Regions from separate parts of the Homo sapiens genome. Here region 1 is linked to region 2. The links come from fine-mapping of genetic effects on gene expression. A gene starts in region 2. The other region holds a variant in brackets. All regions are shown on one strand. Distances are from middle to middle. Region 1 overlaps GNAI3 (G protein subunit alpha i3). Region 2 holds the start of GNAT2 (G protein subunit alpha transducin 2).

Evidence for each region. PIP is the estimated chance that this variant, and not a neighbour inherited with it, causes the effect. A credible set is the group of variants that fine-mapping cannot tell apart.
Region 1: its variant is the best candidate, but not a certain one, in a credible set for the expression of GNAT2 in whole blood (INTERVAL, PIP 0.61).

What each region holds. Positions count from the first base shown.
Region 1 is chr1:109,586,464-109,591,693 of GRCh38, forward strand. It overlaps GNAI3 (G protein subunit alpha i3), which reads left to right. Exons shown (of 9, transcript NM_006496.4): 7 at 266-419. It also overlaps the pseudogene RNU6V. Among named protein-coding and RNA genes, the nearest start is that of MIR197, 9.8 kb to the right of the region's middle. The variant C/T (reference allele first, on the strand shown) is at 2,354.
Region 2 is chr1:109,616,794-109,622,023 of GRCh38, forward strand. GNAT2 (G protein subunit alpha transducin 2) reads right to left here and starts at 2,823. Exons shown (of 9, transcript NM_001377295.2): 1 at 2,690-2,823. AMPD2 (adenosine monophosphate deaminase 2) reads left to right here and starts at 3,044. Exons shown (of 19, transcript NM_001368809.2): 1 at 3,044-3,485; 2 at 4,121-4,473. The coding sequence starts at 4,383. RefSeq lists enhancers at 2,211-2,741, 2,722-2,771, 2,742-3,270, 3,792-3,841, 3,801-4,329 and 1 more and a silencer at 2,962-3,151.

The DNA.
Region 1 (5,230 bases), 30 kb before region 2:
TTTTTGATCTGTGCCCTATTACTCTAAAAAAGATGTTATAGCCACCTTGAGTATGTGGAAAGGATGTTAGCCAGCCCTTCCTCCTACCTCCTCTCCCCCAAAAATTACAAAAATGAGGACTGACACTCAACTTTATCTTATTGGTGTTTGACTTATTTCCGTGAATGCCATTTAGTGCTGCAAAACTTGTTGGTTTGTCTTTTTCATTAACTTAATCCACTTTTACTATTTGCTACTGACCTATCATCCTTTATTTCTTTTTCAGAACCGAATGCATGAAAGCATGAAACTGTTTGACAGCATTTGTAATAACAAATGGTTTACAGAAACTTCAATCATTCTCTTCCTTAACAAGAAAGACCTTTTTGAGGAAAAAATAAAGAGGAGTCCGTTAACTATCTGTTATCCAGAATACACAGGTAAGGGGTTATGAAAGATTTTATTGGAGGTACACATCTTACTTAGATCAACACTTTGGTGGCATTCATAAAACTGCCTTTTTTTTTTTAATGATTGATTGGGAGAGTATTCAGTGGTAGTGGCATTGGCATTAAGCCTGTGATTAAAAGCCCCTAAGTCAAGAGTGCCATATCAGACACAATTGAGTTTTCTGTGTTTATTTTAAATTTCTATCTTCATTTTTTGAGGAAAATACAAAAGGAGAAAAAGTAAATTTGGGAGCTGGGCATGGTGGCTATAATTCTAGCTACTTGGAAGCTTGAGGCAGGAGGATCATTTGAGCCCAAGAGTTTGAGATCAGTCTAGGCAACATAGTGACACCCCCCTGCCTCACAAAAAATAAAGTAAAATTTGGTATATGTTGAAGAAAATACAAGGGTAAATTTTAATCATTGTGCCCAAGAGACTGACATGTAGTTGCAGAGAGACATAAATAATTTTATTATAGTGTTTAATTGCACATAAATAATTTTATTATAGTGTAAAATATGCATTAATAGAAGTGGAATAGAAGTGGTTACTTCTGATGGGGTCACTGTAGTCTTTTTCTAGAGCTACTAAGAGGATGAAATAGAAATCATCAGGCAGACGGGAATAAAAGCATTTTAGAAAAGAGGAATTGCATATATGAGAATATGGAGGTAGGAAAATGGTATGACCAGTTGTGGAACCCAGAAGGAATTTGGTATTACTAGAGTTTACAGTGGCAGGGAAGAAGTGGTTGGAGAGATGGTCAGAGATCAACTCATGGAGGGCCTTATATCTCATGCTGAGACGATGATCAGTTAAAGGTTTAATATCCTACCATGATCCATATCATGGGGTGCATGATATAGAAGAAACTGTGCTTGAGAAAGATTATGCAATAAATAATAAAGATAGATAGTAGGGGATTTGAATTAGTAAGAACTCAGGATGGAAATAAAAACTTTTGATGGGGATTAAGGGATATATCATAGAACCCAAGGGCAAGAATGGACAGGTCTTAGAATGGAATTAGAACTAGGAAATAATTGTCAGGAACCCTGGAAGCACTCTTTATCCCCATCTTTTTTCTCTCCTCTCTGTGTATCTTTTTTATTATTCTTTCTTTCCTAACCAGCTTTCTCTGCTATTCAGTTTATGTGATAACAGCCTAGTCACAGTTTCTGTATCTCTGGTAAAAAGATCAGACTAGGCTGGGCGCGGTGGCTCACGCCTGTAATCCCAGCACTTTGGGAGGCCGAGGCGGGTGAATCATGAGGTTAGGAGATCGAGACCATCCTGGCTAACACAGTGAAACCCCGTCTCCACTAAAAATACAAAAAAAATTAGTTGGGCTTGGTGGCAGGCACCTGTAGTCCCAGCTACTCGGGAGGCTGAGGCAGGAGAATGGCATGAACCCGGGAGGCAGAGCTTGCAGTGAGCCGAGATCGCGCCACTGCACTCCAGCCTGGGCGACTGAGCAAAAAAAAAAAAAAGATCAGACTAGACTGGGATTGCTTGGCCTTGGTTTCAAATTCCAAGGAGAGAGATTCTGGCCGTGGTTAAGTCAGGCAGAAATCTGTAGGCCAATCAGTTGAGGTCAGGGGCACAAATGTAACTGCCAGGGATGGATCACTATGAAACTTATAGATCAGAATCAGGTATTTCCAGAGAAGGGGAACTCTTATTAGCAGAGACACTGTAAATGCTTTCTATAATAAAGTGAGGCTGGGTGCAGTGGCTCATGCCTGTAATCCCAGCACTTTGGGAGGCCGTGGCAGGTGGATCATGAGGTCAAGAGATCGAGACCATCCTGACCAATGTGGTGAAACCCTGTCTCTACTAAAAATAGAAAAATTAGCTGGGCATGGTGGTGTGCGCCTGTAATCCCAGCTACTCGGGAGGCTGAGGCAGGAGAATCGCTTGAACC[C/T]GGGAGGCGGAGGTTGCGGTGAGCCGAGATCGCACCACTGCACTCCAGCCTGGTGACAGAGTGAGACTCCATCAATCAATCAATCAATCAATCAATCAATAAAGTGAAGGGGTAAAGCAGGGGTAAGGAAGTGGGAAGAGTCAGAGGTACTCCCAGGTTTCTGTCTTGGATGCTGGTGCTGTGACCTGAATTCATGTATAGGAATGTTGATTTTTAATTATTCATAGAACGTTGAAATAATATCTCATGGACAGTTATATTCGAGGTTGAGGAGAGGTTGGGGTTTGAGATCATCAGTAGTGAAAACATGGAAATGGGTGAAATGACCTATGGAGATAATATTATAGAATGAGGAGAAAAAGGACCACAGGTAGAACGAGAGAGAATAGCAGCCTCTATTGGCAGGAGAGGAAGAAAGATATCATAACCAAAAGGAGAGGTTAAAAAGTGAGTTGATTAAATATTTCAGTCAACAGTGTTATCTGCAGATAAGTAAGATACATACTGAAAAAGAGCCTTTGGAGTTAACAGTTAGGAGGTCGTTGACCTGCTGTTGAGAGCAGTGTCAGTGGAAAGTTGAGTACAGTGAGTTACAGAATGGAAAGTGAAGAAAGAAGACAAGTGTAGACTACTCTTGAGCAACGTGGGTTTAAAGGGAAGGGAGAGATTTAAGAATGTTTATAGGCTGAGGGCTAAGATCCTATAAGCAAAAGAGATACATTAAAAAACAGATGTAATTGAAGGAGCAAGATTTGCAAGCAGGTGGGAAAAAAGGAATTAAGAGTCTAGGTAGGATAAATGGATAAACAAATTGTGTTATATACATACAATGAATATTACTTACCCAAGAAAAGGAATAATAATAGATGGTACAACTTGTATGAAACTCAAAACACTGTGCTAAGTAAAAGAGGCCAATACTTCTATTATATGATATATCCAAAATAGGGCAATTTCTGTCCATAGAGACAGAAAGAATATTAGTGGTTATGAGAAGTGGGAGAATGGGAAGAAAAGGGAGTGATTACTTAATGGGAATAGGGTGTTGAAAAAGTTTTGTCACTAGAGAGAGGTGGTGATTGCATAACATTGTGAATACACTAAGTGCCACAGAATTGTACACTTTAAAATGGTTAAATATCTGTTATGTTAATTTTCCTCAATAATTTTTTTAAAAGAGTATAGGTAGAGCAATTGATTTTTGAGCAAGAAGTAAGACACCTCTAAGACCAGAAGTACAAATAAGTGCAGATATGTAACATTTTGAGTGAGGTGGTAGGCCAAAAAGTTGAGATGTAGTTTAATCCTCATGGCCTCTGTTTTATCAAGGAAGTTGGAAATGTGGTTACCTGTTCAGAGTAAAGAACAGAGGGAGGTGAGAATAAGGTGAGTTTATAGAAAGCAACCAAGTTTTAGGATTGGGGGAGAGAGATGTAAGACAAGTAAAATAATTGGCATTAATGTTGAAGGCCCAGCTTAGAGTCTTCACACAAAGCAAAGAGCCTTTAATATCATTTCCATTTTCTTTGTTGTTGTTAACTTCCAAGCCTATCCTCCATTGTCTTCATTCTGTGTACAGATTCTTACGGTCCTTATTTGCCAGGTATTATTATCTGTTCCTAGCAGACAAAATTCACTTTTCACTCATCTGCCTCCTTTAATTTACAGAGGTTGTTTTCCAGATTTTAAGAACCTGCTTCAAGCACCTACAAAGCTGTTTTCCTTCAGTTCTTTAAATATTTTAATTAATATTCTTTTCCTTTCCTTTTTTTTTTTTGAGACAGTGTCTTGCTCTGTCTCCCAGACAGAAATGCAGTGGCATGATCTCGGCTCACTGCAACCTCCACCTCCCAGATTCAAGTGCTTCTTGTGCCTCAGCTCTACTACAGGTGCCCACCACCAGGCCTAGCTAATGATTTTTTGATTTTTAGTAGAGATGTGGTTTCACTAAGTTAGCCAGGCTGGTGTTGAACTCCTGACCTCAAGCGATCCACCTGCTGCGGCCCCCAAAGTGCAGGGATTACAGATGTGAGCCACCGCACCCAGCTCCTTTTTTCTTAAGCTCCGTTTTGTTACCTGGTCTTCTTTATATCTTTGTTATTGATATTTTTGTTATGCTTCACGTTACTGAAAATAGCCTGTAGTTTATTGGAATAATGAATTGTCTTTGTTGCGTTTCCCTGGCTTTATAGCCAGTTTCTAAGGCTACTCTAAAGGTTCTATAAGTAGACAAGATGGTGTAAAAAGCAGGTGATTTAAGGGTATTAATTACAAATATTGTTGAGACAGGCTTTGCTTTTGGTTCCTGTCACCTTTCTTTTTGTAAAAAATAATAGCTTCATTGAGATATAATTGGGAAACCCTAAAATTCACTCTTTTAAAGTGTATTGCTTTTCCTTATTTAAATTATTACCTTAAGGCTTTGAAGCTAAACCTCTTTAAAACTGTGGAATGATTTTGAAAAGAACAATTTACCTTGTTGAATTCCTTTTTTTTTTGTTTTAATACAAACAATCCCATAGCGTTTATTGCCATCTTTTAGTAACATAAGGGTAATCAAAACACTATGAATGAATGTTCATATTGGAAAAAGGACATCTAAAAGCAAACTGTATCCTTCTCAACAATTTCTCACTTCATTGATCCTTTCTAGTTGGAGACACTTTGTAGCAGAGTAATATTATCTCCTTTTAGCATGATCCGACCCAGTTGTTTTAAAAAATATGGAACGCTTCACGAATTTGCGTGTCATCCTTGCGCGGGGACTGTGCTAATCTTCTCTGTATTGTTCCAATTTTAGTACATGTGCTACCAAAGCAAGCACTACCCTGTTGAATTTTTATTCCAAGATCACTCCAAGGAACACAGCCTCTCTCA
Region 2 (5,230 bases):
GGGGAAAGGAAAGAGCATGAAAAAAGAGGTAGAGGCACAAAGTACAAGGTGTGCTCAGAGAAGACTGGGACTTTGATGTGACTGGACTGGAGTGAAAGGTGCATGGAGTGGAGGGTTGGGAGGTGAAGATGAAGACAAGAAAGGGAAATTGGAGCCAGCCAGTGAAGCGCCTTCAATGGCAAGGGGTTTGACTAAAATCCACTGGGGTCTTATAAACAAGTATAGATGGAAACAGCTGTATGGTGCTATAAACACAATGCTGGGTGACTGAGGTGAGGGGGAGAGGGAGCTGGCTGCTGGGAGAAGCTGAGAAACCAGAGCTGAACAGCTTGTTTCTAGAAGGGCCTAGGCATAAGGTATGGTTTGGGAAATTGCCTTGGCCAAGGACCTTTTTGGAGCTGCAGATATTCTCTCCCAAGTTTAGTATCTGTGAAGATTGTTCTGGCCTAGCTAGGGAGGCGGACATCACAAGTGAGCTGAAGTCCAGAAGCAAAGAAAAGCACTTCTTCAGAGAAACAGGAGTGCACCATCTTTAGGGAGCTGGGATTCCGGGAGGGCCAGTTAAGGAGCCATGTGGGGAACAGGCTAGGAGGGGAGGAAGCTGTGTTTGGAGCTAGGGAATATCTCAGAGGCTCAAAGGCAATGAATGTTAAGGCCTCAGTGTGAAAAAAGCCCAGGCCATAGGATGACTCACTCCTTTATTTCCCAAGCTCTGTTCTGCGTAGACAATGAAACCTCACTGAGATTCTTGCTGGTATGGAGTGGGTGGAGGGATTGATGCCTAACTATAATCAGGGCCGACTTCCTAGCAGCAACAATACACCAGATGACCTGGAAATAGGGGAGGGTTGTAGAGTGAAGGGTGTGTTGCAGATGGGACTAGGGGACTAGCATAAAGGGACTAATGAACTGGTTTGCCTGGGCTGGGTGGAGGGCAAGGATTGCCACCTATTGGCTGCTGAGGTAGGTAGGTCTGCATTAAGCAGGATGCTCAAGAGACCTGGCCCAATGCAAGATACTATCTTTAAAACTATGTCAACATTTGCATCTTATCAGAAGATACATGACATTTATGTAGTTACATGGTGCTTGATTTTTGAGATTCATTTTATTCATTCTTGAGAGTCCATCAGCCTCAAAATCCCTAAGCGCCCCAAGACCAATTCAGTGGGCCATAAATGTAAACAGAATAGTTTAAGTCTGGGGTTAAGACCCCGGGAAGGCTGGGTTGGGGGGACTGTGGAGGCAATTACAGATTTTTACAGATTTTTGTTGATTTCTATCCCCTTGATTATAAAAGTTATGGGTATGTATTATAATTTCTAAAATGCAAATAAATATAAAGAAAATAAATATAACCCATAATTCCATCACTACAGATAATCATTGGTAAACTTGTTGGTGTGTTTCTTTTCTACCCATGTATATCACATAAGTAGGACCATACTGTGTATAGTGTTTTGCATCCATTCTTTTACCTAACTTTATATTGTAAACATTTCCACATCATTAAACATTTCTCCAAGAACAATTTTTAATGGCTGTATTTCATGGTATGAATATTACATAAACATTCCCCTATTGTTCGACCTTTAAAGTATCTAACTTTTCTATGCAATACACATTGTGGTGCTGAACAACTTTTTGCATACATATTTTTCTGGCAGCTCTTTTTAGAAAAACAACTTCCAGAAAGTTGATTACTGGGTCAAATAATAAGAACCTTTTTGAAAATTTTGATTCTATATTACCAGATGGCTTTCAGAAAGATTATATCAGTGTTCAAGGCCACCAGTAATGTGTTTGTGCACATGTACGTGTGTGTGTGTCTCCCATCTCACTAACTATACCCTTGCCAACCTGCATTAGCGTTTATTTTTTGGTTTTTTGTTTTTTAGTCTTTGCTATTTTGATTAGGTAAACCTGGTTATCTCTGTTCTCTTTTTAGTTTTATGGATTCTGTGTGAGGTGAAGAGGCCAAGTTTTTTTTAAGTTTGTTCAGGGAACAGTAGCCAGGGATCAATGGAAGTGGCACCAGATGCAGGTGGAGAAAAGGGTTCAGGGTCCAGAATCCAGCGTGGGGAGAGAAGAGGGAGGCAGAGTTTGGGAAGGATCTCTGCTGTGGGAGTGGTAAGAACTGGGAGGAGCCAGACAAACAGCATTAGAACAACTGGGTGTGGGGGGCAAAGGCCTCCCACAAGAGGGAAAATAGGGAAGAGATTAATTCCTGCTAATGCATTTAATTATATTCAGTGAAGTCTTAGGGACTTCCCTCCACAAGTTCCCTTTAGGTCGGATTATCTACCCCTTGGCAGTGGGGATGCTTGTTGGATAGACCCCAGAACGGCTGCAAGTGAATCAACCTGTGAGTGTCAATAGAGAACCAAGGCCAAGGCTAAAGCAATGGTAATACATGAATACTGAGTACTAACTACAGGCCAGGCACAGTTCTAAGCAGTTAACTTATATTAACTCATTTATCTTAACCACCATATAAAGCAGGTACTCTTACACTCATTTTACAGACGAAATAGAAGCACAGAGAAGTTAGGTAACTTGCCCAGTATCAGTCAGGAAGTAGGTGAAATCTGGATTTGAACCCAGACATTCTGGCTAGAGTTAAAGCTCTTAACCACCAAATACAGAAATGTGGGAAGGGGAGCCAGAATTGCAGGGCACAGCCTCCTACCTACGCCGGCCGGAAGAAAACAGACGACCAAGTGAGATTGCAGGGGCAGGACTTCTGCTTAAAATGAATCCTGGGACAATGATAACAGCTACCTTTCACTGGGCCCTCACTTCGTGCCAGGCACTGTGTAAAGGGACTTTACGTTTAATCTTCACAGTAACCCCTTTGAGTGAGGTACTGTCATTACCCCATCTTACTGATGAGGAAGCTGACGCACGGAACTGGCCCAAGACCCAGGGTCGGCTCAGGCCAGCCCTACCGCGGTGTGGTGGCTGCCCACGTGGCGCCCAGGAAGAGAAAAAAATGGCGAGGCGGGGTCGGCAGGCGGAGGCGGGGCCAGGCGGGGGCGGGGCCAAGGGCCGCAGAGCCTGGCGCGGAGCCGGCGAGATTTTGGTGGGGTCTCACCTGTTGCGTGACTCCCCCACAGTCCGGCCGCGGGAGTCCGACCCTGAATGCCCAGGGAGTGTTGAGAGAAATCTGGACGAGTTTCGGGTCCCGCTCCCTTGGGAGCACGTGGCCTACCAGCCTCTCGATTGCAGGGTTGGGTGGTCGCGACACCGGGGTCGCCTTGAGGCCAGTCCGGCTGCCGAGGTCTGCGGGAGTCCACCTCCGGCCAGCTGGCAATTTTGAAAGACTGCCTTACTTTCCCCATCTCAGTGCCAGGGCAGGGGCCCTTGGAGTGACTTGGCTGGGGTCTGTGGCCCGATCCCCCTGCCGTCCCTCAGGACCCGGGCTTTCTGCTGTACAGACTTCTCGTGGGCAGCCTCCCCTCGGAACTCGGGCATCATGGCCTCAGGTGAGTGTGTGTACGTGTGTTGGAGGGAGGGTCTCTGGGACAGAGAAGTGCTGTGGCCAGAGTGACAAGAGGGTGGGAGTCACAGCACAGCAGCAGGACCTAGGGAAGGCGGTCAGCTCCTCCCAGGAGGGCCTGGGGAGCAGAGCCAGAGTGTGCAGAGACAGAGGAAAAATCCAAAGAGGCTAGGGTCTCTGTCCCAGACCCCCAGACAAGGGGGTCTCCTGGCCTTCCTGCCTTCCTGGGAGGTAGCTATTTGGCGACGGTGGAATTTTCCCGGGACAGGCCCCTCCCTCCTGGGCTGGGATTCTCGGTTCTTCCCCCTCCTCCCAGAGCTGGGCTACCCCGGGAGCTGAGGGTCAGATGTGGAAGGAAAGTGGGTGCTGGGTTTTCACGGAGTATGCCTGCCCTGCCCCGGGAGGACTGTGTTTGAGCTTGGACTCGCTCGCTGCTGAATTCCTGTTTGTTATTCTTTTTTCTTCCAGGCTAGCTGGAAGGACCAGCTAGCCTGGACTTTGGCTTCTTTGCCCGGGAGCCCTGGCATGATGGGGTGAGGGCTCTTGGTGGGTTAGTGGAGAGCTGGGGGCTGGCCCTTCCCCATCTTCTTTTCTACCCACCCCCTCCCCGCCCCCCGCCAGGCCCAGCCACCATCAGTCACGTCACTCCTGGGACTGAGGAGGCAGGGGAGGGATAAGGGGCAGAGATGGAGGCCCCACTCCCCGAGGTTGCCTAGACAACATGAGAAATCGTGGCCAGGGCCTCTTCCGCCTGCGGAGCCGCTGCTTCCTGCATCAGTCACTCCCGCTGGGGGCGGGGCGGAGGAAGGGGTTGGATGTGGCAGAGCCAGGCCCCAGCCGGTGCCGCTCAGACTCCCCCGCTGTCGCCGCCGTGGTCCCAGCCATGGCATCCTATCCATCTGGCTCTGGCAAGCCCAAGGCCAAATATCCCTTTAAGAAGCGGGCCAGCCTGCAGGCCTCCACTGCAGCTCCAGGTGAGTGTGTGCTTCCTGGCCTCAGGATAGATGCTGGGCTCTGTCTTGCCACCTCTCGCCCAAGGTGCTGGTCCCCTCAGAGGGGGCCACCTCCTCCGGCATCCTCTCTGTGGTGGTGCCCCTCAACCTCAGTCCCAGGGACAGCCGGCTTGGAAGGTGGGGTGAGGGGTGGTGGGGGGCGGGGGGTGGATCTGAGATATCTGTGCCAGGGATGCTGTCCTCTGTCACAAGGAGTGGGCATGGTGTGGGTGCAGCAAGAGGTGTGTATGCACACGTGTCAGCGTGTGCATGTGCTAAGACTGCGTGTGAAGCATGTGTGAATGGAGCGGGGGTGTGTGGGACTGACTGTTTTGTGGACTGGCCACTCTGACTGGCGCCTGTGCCTTTACCAGGCAGGCTTAGGCTGTTCTGTGGCTAGTTCCACTTTTTAGGACCCCACATCTAGATCCCCCTCACTGGGGGTCTGACATCTGGGCACAACCATTGCTGGCTGGCATCCCACAACTGGGGGCTTGACTGTATCTATCGTTTGCTATTTGCTCATTCCTGGTCTATATTGTGAGCCTCCTTAGGAGTATGGGGTGTCCTTGGTCAGGTCCGTGCAGGGTTCAGGCTGGGGCTGCTGCCCGCACTGTGTGTGCTTCTGCACCCTTTGGTTCGTCTCTCACTCTAGTAAGCATCTCTGCATCATTTGGAGCAGGCAGTGAGGTGCGGCAGTGCCTGTCTCAGTGAGGGCTTGGCTGCCTGGCTCTGTGCT